Regions from separate parts of the Homo sapiens genome. Here region 1 is linked to region 2. Evidence: fine-mapped expression QTL. Tissue or cell type: whole blood. Region 2 holds a variant in brackets; the other region holds the start of a gene. All regions are shown on one strand. Distances are from middle to middle. Region 1 holds the start of SPESP1 (sperm equatorial segment protein 1). Region 2 has its middle 21 kb from the start of SPESP1.

Evidence for each region.
Region 1: SPESP1 starts here. The variant in region 2 is fine-mapped to the expression of SPESP1 in whole blood (INTERVAL, PIP above 0.99).

Annotation. Positions count from the first base shown.
Region 1 is chr15:68,928,149-68,933,532 of GRCh38, forward strand. It overlaps SPESP1 (sperm equatorial segment protein 1), which reads left to right and starts at 2,377. Exons shown (of 2, transcript NM_145658.4): 1 at 2,377-2,569. The coding sequence starts at 2,506. It overlaps SPESP1-NOX5 (SPESP1-NOX5 readthrough), which reads left to right and starts at 2,377. Exons shown (of 17, transcript NR_033672.2): 1 at 2,377-2,569.
Region 2 is chr15:68,906,575-68,911,958 of GRCh38, forward strand. No RefSeq gene overlaps it. Among named protein-coding and RNA genes, the nearest start is that of SPESP1, 21 kb to the right of the region's middle. The variant C/T (reference allele first, on the strand shown) is at 2,675.

The sequences.
Region 1 (5,384 bases), 22 kb after region 2:
GTTGGCTGGAGACATTGGTTCCTCAACATGTGTCCGGAATTGGTGGGTTCTTGGTCTAACTTAAAGAATGAAGCCGTGGATCCTCGTGGTGAGTGTCACAGTTCTTAAAGGCAGCATGTCCGGAATTTGTTCCTTCTGATGTTCGGATGTGTTTGGAGTTTCTTCCTTCTGGTGGATTCGTGGTCTAGCTGGACCAGGAGTGAAGCTGTAGACCCTCATGGTGAGTGTTACAGCTCTTATGGTGGCCCATCTGAGTTGTTCATTCATCCCGGTGGGTTCGTGGTCTCACTGGCTTCAGGAGTGAAGCGGCAGACCTTCGCAGCGAGTGTTACAGCTTATAAAGGCAGTGTGGGCCCAGAGTAAACAGCAGCAAGAGTTATTGCAAAAAGCGAAAGAACAAACCTTCCACACGACAGAAAGAGACTCCATAGGGTTACTACTGCTGGCTCGGGCAGCCTGCTTTTATTCCCTTATCTGGCCCCACCCACATCCTGCTGATTGGTTCACTTTACAGAGAGCTGATTGGTCCGTTTTGACAGGGTGCTGATTGGTGCATTTACAATCCCTGAGCTAGACACAAAAGTTCTCCAAGTCCCCACTAGATTAGCTAGACACGGGGTGCTGATTGGTGCATTTACAAACCTTGAGCTAGACACAGAGTGCCCATTGGTGCATTCACAATCCCTTAGCTAGACATAAAGGTTCTCCAAGTCCCCACCAGACTCAGGAGCCCAGCTGGCTTCACCCAGTGGATCCCACACCCAGGCGCAGGTGGAGCTGCCTGCCAGTCCCCGGCCCTGCGCCCGCACTCCTCAGCCCTTGGGCGGTCGATGGGACTGGGCGCCGTGGAGCAGGGAGCGGCGCTCCTCAGGGAGGCTCAGGCATGGCAGGCTGCAGGTCCCGAGCCCTGCCCTGCGGGGAGGCAGCTAAGGCCTGGCGAGAAATCGAGCACAGCAGCTCCTGGCCCAGGTGCTAAGCTCCCCCCAACTGCCCGTGGCCAGCGGGGACGGCCGGCCGCGCTGAGTGCCGGGCCCACCGAGCCCGCCGAGCCCACGCCCACCCGGAACTCGGGCTGGCCCGCAAGCGCCGTGCGCAGTCTCAGTTTCCGCCGGCGCCTCTAGTCTTGCTTCCCTCCAGTCCATTCTTCATGCTACAGGAAGAGTGAGTTTTCTGGAATACAAATCTAATCACAACCGTTCCCAGCTCAAAACCTAGCAGTACTCTAGTACTGGTGCCTCAGACTAAAATCCAAGCCCCTTGCTTCCTGAGGCAGAGATGAGTGTACGTGAATTTTTAAAAATAACCATACAGAAAAACAGATTCTTTGGGATGTGCAGTTCTGCGAATTTTTATTTTTATTTATTTTTTTGAGGTGGAGTCTTGCTCTGTCGCCCAGGCTGGAGTGCAGTGGCACGATCTCGGCTCACTGCAACCTCTGCTTCCCGGGTTCAAGTGATTCTCCTGCCTCAGTCTCCCAAGTAGCTGGGACTACAGGCGTGTGCCACCACCCACGCCTGGCTAATTTTGTATTTTTAGTAGCCACGAAGTTTCACTATGTTGGTCAGGCTGGTCTCGAACTCCTGACCTCAGGTGGTCCGCCCACCTCGGCCTCCCAAAGTGCTGGGATTACAGGAGTGAGCCACCGTGCCCGGCCTTCTGTGAATTTTAACACATGTATAGATTCTTGTGGCCACTGCCATCTATTAGTCCCCAAAACAACCTCATGCTATCCTTTCATAGTCGTACTCTCCCTCATCCCTACCCCTATCTTTTTAAGAAGGTCAAAGAAATGGAATGTGATCTTTTGAAAAACAAAAACACCCAAGCCCCTTAGGGCGTTTTTAATGCCCTTGCCTACCTCTCCTCCCTGTCCTCCAACAACTGCCCTCCCAAGCCCCACAATGCAACTCGCCGGAACTATGCTCAGTTCTTGGGGTGCTCCAAGCTGTCCTCCACTTAGCCAAGCTCCCCACCCGCTTCCGGGGGTGGGTTTCCACTGTGCACAACAGTACCTAGCGCTTCCCCCACTACAGCCCCCTTTCACGCTGTGGTAATTGCCAGGTTATCTGCCTCTCCCATTACAGTTCCTTCCTCACAGGGACCGCGTTTAAACCACGGCGGTATCCCTACCGCGCAGGATGGGCCGAGCCCCGCACGCCCCGAGGCAGCACCCCGCACGCAGTAGCCGGGCGTCGAGGCGTTCCCAGCCCACACCAGGCGCGGACCTACGAAGGCGGAGCGAGCATGCGCACTAGGAAGGGGCGGGGCGGGGCGCGCGCGATCCCCCGCCCCCTGCACGCGGTCCCAGGAGGGGCGGGCCTTGGCCGCTCGCTCTCCCCTCCCCCATGCCGCTGCGCTTGCGCGCTGGGGACAACCGTTGCTGGGTGTCCCAGGGCCTGAGGCAGGACGGTACTCCGCTGACACCTTCCCTTTCGGCCTTGAGGTTCCCAGCCTGGTGGCCCCAGGACGTTCCGGTCGCATGGCAGAGTGCTACGGACGACGCCTATGAAGCCCTTAGTCCTTCTAGTTGCGCTTTTGCTATGGCCTTCGTCTGTGCCGGCTTATCCGAGTGAGTGACGGGCCTGAGGAGGCAGCGGACCGGGGACACCCTGGGGGAACTTCCCGAGCTCCGCGACCTCGAAGCCTGGCCCTTCCTTCTCCCTGGTCCTACATGCCTCCCTCCCCCACTGTCCGGGGTCCTGGCCTCGACGCCGAGGGGTGTCCCTCTCCTCTCCTGGTCAGGGAACGCAGCAACTGAGGCGGCGCGGCCCAGATGAGACGGGAAGCGCCTGCGGGCCGTGGGCGCGGGTGGAACCCCCTCACCTCACCGGAGGCCTTCCTCTGCCCACCCGATCCTTCCCCAGCCATTGGGCGTGTGACCGTGCAGGGGTCGTGTGACAGCTGCTGGCCAGCTAGGAATGATTTTTACATTTTCTTCCTTTTTTTTTAATTATTATACTTTAAGTTCTAGGGTACATGTGCACAGCGTGCAGGTTTGTTACATATGTATCCATGTGCCATATTGGTGTGCTGCACCCATAACTTGTCATTTACATTAGGTATATCTCCTAATGCTATCCCTCCCCCCTCCCCCCACCCCACGGCAGGCCCTGGTGTGTGATGTTCTATTTTTGCATTTTCAAAGTAAATATGAAATGTACTCTTTCATGACTTGTGGAAAAGCATGACGCTCACATTTCATTGTTCGTGAATAAAGTTTTACTGGCACACCACCACGCTCATTCCTTTACGTATTGCCCATGGCTGCTTTCCCACGTTAGAACAACGGGGTTAAGTGGTTGCCACACAGTCTGGTCTGCAAAGACTGAAGTATTTACTCTCTGGCCCTGTACAGAAAAAAAGGTTGACCCGTACGGTAAAATTTGGAGAGCATGTGGATTGTGGGTCGCGGTCTGGGACACTCACCTGAGGATGCGCTCCCAGAGAGCATGCTTGCGCACACGGCATTCAAAGCCTTAGTTAAGCAGGATTATAACTTAAGACCTGCCAAGGAGCAATTTTTGTCCCTCCCCGAAAGCTGAAAACCAATAAGGTCAAATTCAGGGGTGCTAAGACTTTACTATATTAACAATATCATGTGGGCACCTTAAGGCACTTAGTATTTAAGTCAGGTAGGTGAGGCTTCCCCATTTAGTCTAACTGTAGTTCATTGTGGCATTTAGTAATGTTGGAGTTTGGTTTCACTTAAATCAATAAATACAATTTAACAGGTGTAAAAAAAGCGCTATCGTGCATGCTGATTATGCAAATCTATTTTTCAGAATTGCTAAACGATCTTAGTTAAAAATCAAATTTAAAAACTGAAAATACAACACAATCTAAATTATGAATAGTAATGGGAAAAGTTCTAGATGAAGTTCTAGGTAACTAAAGTTAGCTCTTTAAATACTAGCATTTATGATTTGTAGCTGTTTTTAATAAAAAGTTTTGTAAAATTTTTCTTCCTTGACATAGAGGACCAGAACATAATGAAGATGCTACTATCTTTTCTTGATGTCTGATGATCATTATTACTAACACCAGTTATTGCATTTTGGTAGTTGTAGATCAGCAAGTCACAAGTGACTAACATATATGGAGACTTTAACTGAAGTGACTTTAACACTGTCACACAGTACACTCTGGGACTGCTAGGTAGGAGTCCCTGGACACCCACTTAACTCAGTGCAGTCTCTTGCCTAACACCATAATTTTCCCCTCCCCCTCCCCTTCCCTTTTCCCCCCCTTTTTTTTTTGCCTGAGACAGGGTCTCACTCTCTAGCTCAGACTAGAGTGCAGTGGCCCGATCTCGGCTCACCGCAACCTCTGCCTCCCAGGCTCGAGGGATTCTCCCACCTCAGCCTCCTGAGTAGCTGGGATTATAGGCGCACGCCACTACCGCCTGGCTAATTTTTGTATTTCTAGTAGAGACGGGGTTTCACCATGTTGGCCAGGCTGGTCTCGAGCTCCTGACCTCAAATGATCCATCCGCCTCGGCCTTGCAAAGTGCTGGGATTACAGGCTTGAGCCACTGTGCCCAGCCAGCCTGTTGTCTTTCTTAGCACCCTATTCCCTAATCTTTCTTGGGAAGAAAGAAAAGGGTTGTAGGAAATGAAAAGACGCTTCCCAGAAAAAAGGAGTGATTTTGTGTTGAATATATAGATGTTATAAGACATAAGGAAACTATATACAGGTTGTAATCATAGAAGATGTCTTGGAATATGTAATTACCTTTCTTCTACAGAAGTGGATTAAGGAATATATAGAGCAGGCAGTGGTACATGGCTGCTTTCTCTGTATCTGTCTCTCTACTTTTTCTCTAATTTTAATTTTGTTTTTAAAATAAGTATACCAAAATGCGTATATCATTGAGCTTGATGTAAATCAGCTATGCATTCTTTTATATGGCCACTATTCAAACAATTGTTGGCGAGATGCAAAAGATAAGGTACATAGGTTTTTATAATGAAAAGTGCAGCTTTGACACATTTTTTCTAGACTACTAGACAGTTTTGAGGTTATTACGCAAACATCACGGGTGTATTAAGTAATTGCATTTATTGAAAACCTCAGTACTTCTTGTATCTGCCTATACCTTTCTAACAGGCCCAATCCAAGCTTAGCTAGTATTTGTTTAATCTAAATTCAGTTAGACATAAATGCAGCTTGGGTATACAGAAGTCGGCACTCCTTTACATACACACACACACATCCTGATGGTGCTGGAGAAACAACGTTTTACTATATAAAATTTTTATACATTCAGTTTCCTCTACCTGATTTTTCCATAGTTTTAAATACTTTGCCATTTTTAAATTTTTGAATGGGAAAGTATTTAATGTATTCCCTCTTTAATGTATTTGCACTGTGCAACTTACTTTACT
Region 2 (5,384 bases):
TACATACCTTTTCTAAATGTAGCACGAGTAGTAAATCAAATAATAACGATGAAAGTAATTTTGAAGACATGACAACCAAAAGAGTTTCTGCTAGATTGACTCAGAAGTATAATCCTTTACATACTGAGTTCAGTTGCACTGCTCTAATTAATTGAGAAGCACTAAAATTTGAATGTGTTATTTGCAGAGATATACTGGCTAATGTAAGCAATTCACCGTCAAACTATAGGCAACATGCATACGCAACTCATAAAGACACACATTCACAATGAAAAGAATTGTTTGAAAGAAGGAATATTGAATTAAAAAGTTAATGGAAGAAGATGTTCAATATTTCATATATGAAGAGTGAGTAGTACTTTTCAGGCTTCTTATCAAGTAGCACTTTGCATGACTAGGACAAAAAATTAAATTGTGGTGACATTAGCAAAAAACTTCATAAAAAATGTTTGCTTGGAAATGATGGGGGAATCTTGAGCAAAGAAGATACTGTGAAGACTGTTTTCCAATGAAACTATAGATTAATGTATTTTAAAACTATCTAATTATGTGGAAGACCAATTTATGGTACAAATAAAGCCAGCAAACTATTTTTTAATGAAACCTGATGCACAGGTAACGCTAACAAAGCAATTCTTTTAGTATATGTGTTATTTGAGCATGATGGTAATATGAAAGTAGAATTTTTTTTTCCAACTTCATTACCATAAACAGAACTCAGAACTGTATAAAATGATGATAGATTACACTGTCTATGTGGTTTGGAGATTAGGGGTAGAAGTATTTTTGATGCACAGATGTAATGACAGGTAAGCATTCTGGAGTAGTTAATCCAGAGAAAAGAGCTGGGCCAGAATATAAACCAACATGCTGTTCCTTCATTGAGAAAGTCTTGCTATCAAACAAACAAACAAAAAAACCAGCTGAACCAATAGTGTCTTAGCAGCATAGTTAAAATTGTGAGTTACATAAAGGATTATGTGTTAAATGTGAGGCTATTCTGTGATCATATGGAAGCTAATCATAAACAAGTGGTGTTGTATGATGAGGTATGATGGTTGCTGAGTGGAGAATTCTGCAGAGAATAAACATTCTCTGCAAACACCAACTCCTGGTATTTCTGCAAGATAAGAAACTAATTTGGTCCCAGCTTTTTAAAGATGTCAGAATTGCTAACTTTTATGATATTCCCAATATGTGAAGTTATCTCACTAATTTCACGCGAGGATGAAATGAAGTATTTTCAAATGCAGATAAGATGGAATGGCAAAATGGCAAAACAAGATGGAAGACTGGAAGGACAAAGTTTCTGCAGATGGTTATGGCATGTTTCATAATTTCACAATTATCGATAGCATAGATGAAGACCTGGAAACTGCACAACTGCAAAATGTTCTCAGTAAATGATTGAAAGTAGATGAGCTTTGTGCAGGCAGAAATCTACTGTACAACTGGCAAGGGCGCCATGTGGAAGAAGTGCTTGGCTCACTGGGGGGTCTGAATGTAGATTTGCACAGAATTTTTGAAGGGCAATTTGACAGTGTATATCAACATTTTAAAAGTATGTAATTTTGAAATATAATTTACAGAGAAGTGTATAAGACAGAAATGAAGAGCTCAGTGATTGGTCACAAAAGGAACACCCGTGTAACTTCTACCCAGGTCAAAATAACTAGTAGTATTTCACTTGTATTAATGGCAATCCATTTTGCCTTCTATTTGTCTAGTTGGAAAACACTCTTCCATTAACAAATCCAGTTTTTAAAATAACTGTAACTGAAATTCTGGCCAGTTCTATATAAACATTGCATTCCTTTGAAAAGTTCAATGGTTAAAAGAAATCAAAGTATTAAAAGGAAAAATAAATAAATACCAGCCGAAAGGTTTATAGGGGTAGTTGTCTGTGAAGAAGAAAAGGTAAGTTCTCACTGGAGCAGGAGTTGTGGGGTTGCAGAAAGTGGGTACAGCAAGAGTGGAGGAGTGAGAGGAAGGCTGGTGTGGAAATGGTCTGGCAAAGCATTTTAGAGAAGCGGTGGGGCTCAGGGAAAGCCCAGTGAGGCTGGATTTCAGAGTGGTTGGTAACAAAATTCCAAATTTGTGAAAACATAACTCTGAGTTTTAAATACAGCTGATCCTTAAATGATGCAGGGGTTAGGGGTGCCTACCCCCTGCTCAGTCAAAAATCCATGTGTAACTTTTGACTCACCCAAAACTTAACTACTGATAGCCTTACTGATAACATAAACAGTCAATTAACACATATTTAGTATATTAGATATATTATATACTATATTCTTAAAGTAAGCTAGAACAAAAGAAAATGTTATTTAAAAAATCCTAAGGAAAATCCATTGACAGTACTCTACTATATTTATCTGTATTGTAAGTTAACTGTTTACAAGGTGAATTGTCTTTCTGAAATGGCAACCATAGCTGCAGACCTCAATCCACAGTACGTATCAAGCAATCTAACTTTTTCTTGTAATGTCATGAATTTTCTCTGCTTCTTGAGACACTTCCAGCATCACTAGGGGCACTTTGTATGGATTCCATGGTGTGAGTCAAGGTTTACAGTATTGAACTAAACATAATGAAAGCTATGTGAGAACCATGAGAGATCACATGTACTGTGGTTCCAATGGTCTGCAGGGAGAAACTGCTCACCTGGAGATGA[C/T]CTGCATCACTTGAGTTAAGCAGATACTCACGACAGTTGAGCTCCCCACAATAGCAACAGGAGGTGGCTATGAAGTTTTTACAGTAGTACAGTATATACCACAGTTCATTTGGTGCATTACGATTTAATACTGCATCTTATATTTGTTTACATTTCTCTTGACTGAATTGTGTCATCTACCGTCTGTAAGTGTGTGCATAAGTTTTTATAAATTTTAACATATTATAATGGACTCATTTTATGGTAATAAATGATAAAATGGACCAATATCGACGTATATTTTATACATTTATGACATACTTAACTTTCTTAATTTTTTCATTATTTTTAAGCTACATGGTTCACATCAAAGTTTTTTCAAATTGTTGGAAATGTAGAACACATTTTCTAATGTATTTATTTTAAAAACCCACATAGAAGTGGACTCATGTAGTTCAAATCTGTGTTGTTGAGGGGTTAACTGTTTATCAAATGATCCCTCCCACCAGCCCACACACTGAGGATACATGCCAAGTCTATCATATCTAAGTCTCATTCTCATTCCAGCTTGTTATATTTGAGCAAGCAGCCAGGTGGTCACAGGTGTTAGGACTGAGTAGAAAAATAATCTGGAGCATGGACCACAGAGGCTGTGCTTTTTATCTAGTGCCTAAAAGAGTCTACTGTCCATATCAGTGGCAATGTATTAAATTACATTACAAATTAGTAAACAAATGAAAAAAAAGTCAAACTGTTTAAGCCAAAACATTCAGCCTTTTGGAAAGATAACAAAAATTCAAACATGTTTCCTTAGGGTCCTACTGTGAGCTAGATTAGAATTTTGTAAATTAAAATTAGAATAATACAGGCACCTCAATTTGTTATGTTTTAACAATGAAAATAAAGAAACTGCTTATTAAATTGTTCTTTAGTGAATGTGAGTTTGTATTGTAACTCTATGACATATTTCCTACTCTATAGAGAGAAGATCATAAACCCATAAATGTCTGTCCTTGAAAGCAGAGAGAGAACATGTGCTTCATGATAGCACCAGGCCAGACTGCATCTGTGAAGAATATAGAAAAGTTTGCAAAGGTGTATCCCTTCATTGGGTATGTAAAACACCTCTACCTGTTAATGTCATTAACTGCAGTTTGGGTCACTCCAAAGCATATTATTTCTAGACAGACAACATACAGTGTCTTTAGAATGTAAACACTGGACAACACAGCAAGACCCTGTCTCTACAAAAAATTAAAAAGTTAGCTGGGTGTGGTAGCATGCACCTGTAGTCCTAGCTACTCAGGAGGCTGAGGCAAGAGGATCTTTTGAGCCCAAGAGTTTGAGGCTGCAATGAGCTATGATCACAACACTGCACTCTAGCCTGGGCAACAGAGTGAGACCCTGTCTGTATATTAAAAAAAGAATATAAAGACTGGATCTAGATAGAATTGGCTTTATGTATTACACATATCAGATAAAAAAACCTTCAAAAGGTACATTTTTATAAAATTATTTTTGTGCTAAACAGTATAAAATGTATCATCTTAACCATTTTTAAGTGTGAAGTTCAGTAGTGTCAGCTATTTTCATATTGTTGTGCAACAGATTTCTAAAAGCTTTTTCATCTTGCAAAACTGAAGCTCTATACCTATTAAACAGCAACTCCCCCTCTCCCCTTTCCCCAGTCCCTAGCAACAATTCTGCTTGTTTCTAAGAGTCTGGTTTCTTTAAAACCACATTTAAGTGGAATCATGTAGTATTTGTCTTTTTGTGACTGTCTTATTTCACTTAGCGTAATGTTCCCAAGATTTGACCTAGAACAAACTGCTGAATGTGCTTATTACAGTATCTGTATGCCTTTTGGTGGGAAAATGTTGAAAAAAAAAAAAAAACAAAAAAAAAAAAGACAGCTGGTAACACTGCAATGCCCAACGCCCAATTCCAAAGCTCCTTAAATATTCCTTGCAGAGTTAATGTTTTGGAGCAGTGCTTCTGGCAGGCCTCTTCTCACTTTTTGTTTTGTTAGGGGGCAGTTGATGGCATACCTAATATATTCAACATCCCCGATCCTCTATAGGGCAAGATTACCTTCTGTAATAATCAGTAATAATGATTCTCTTGATTTGTTCTTTAGTTTTATAACAACTACTAAAAGAGTATACATTTTAAAGATATTTCACATATGAAATAAAATTTGTGTTAACAACAAAAATATATCTCACAATTTGCCCTACTTTACTGTTTCCAACTTTATTATTTTTTTCCTTTTATTTTTTGAGATGGAGTCTTGCTCCGTCACCCAGGTTGGAGTGCGGTGGCATGATCTCGGCTAACTGCAACCTCTGCCTCTCAAGTTTAAGTGATTCTCTTACCTCAGTCTTCCAAAGTAGCTGGAATTACAGGCACATGTCACCATGCCCAGCTAGTTTTTGTATTTTTAGTAGAGATGGGTTTTTGCTGCGTTGGCCAGGCTGGTCTCAAACTCCTGACCTCAGGTGATCTGCCTGCCTCAGCCTCCCAAAGTGCTGGAATTACAGGCATGAGCCACCGCACCTGGCCTGTTTTCAACTTTAAATACAAATGAAAACGCTAAGAGGTCACAAAGACTGACATGATTGAAGTAACTCAGGTTTTGCTTCTTCATCTATAAGGCTGTGCCATCATTGCTGATGTCAAATCTACCATCTCAATGCAGGAATGTGTTTATCACTTGAGCCGGATTCAGGCA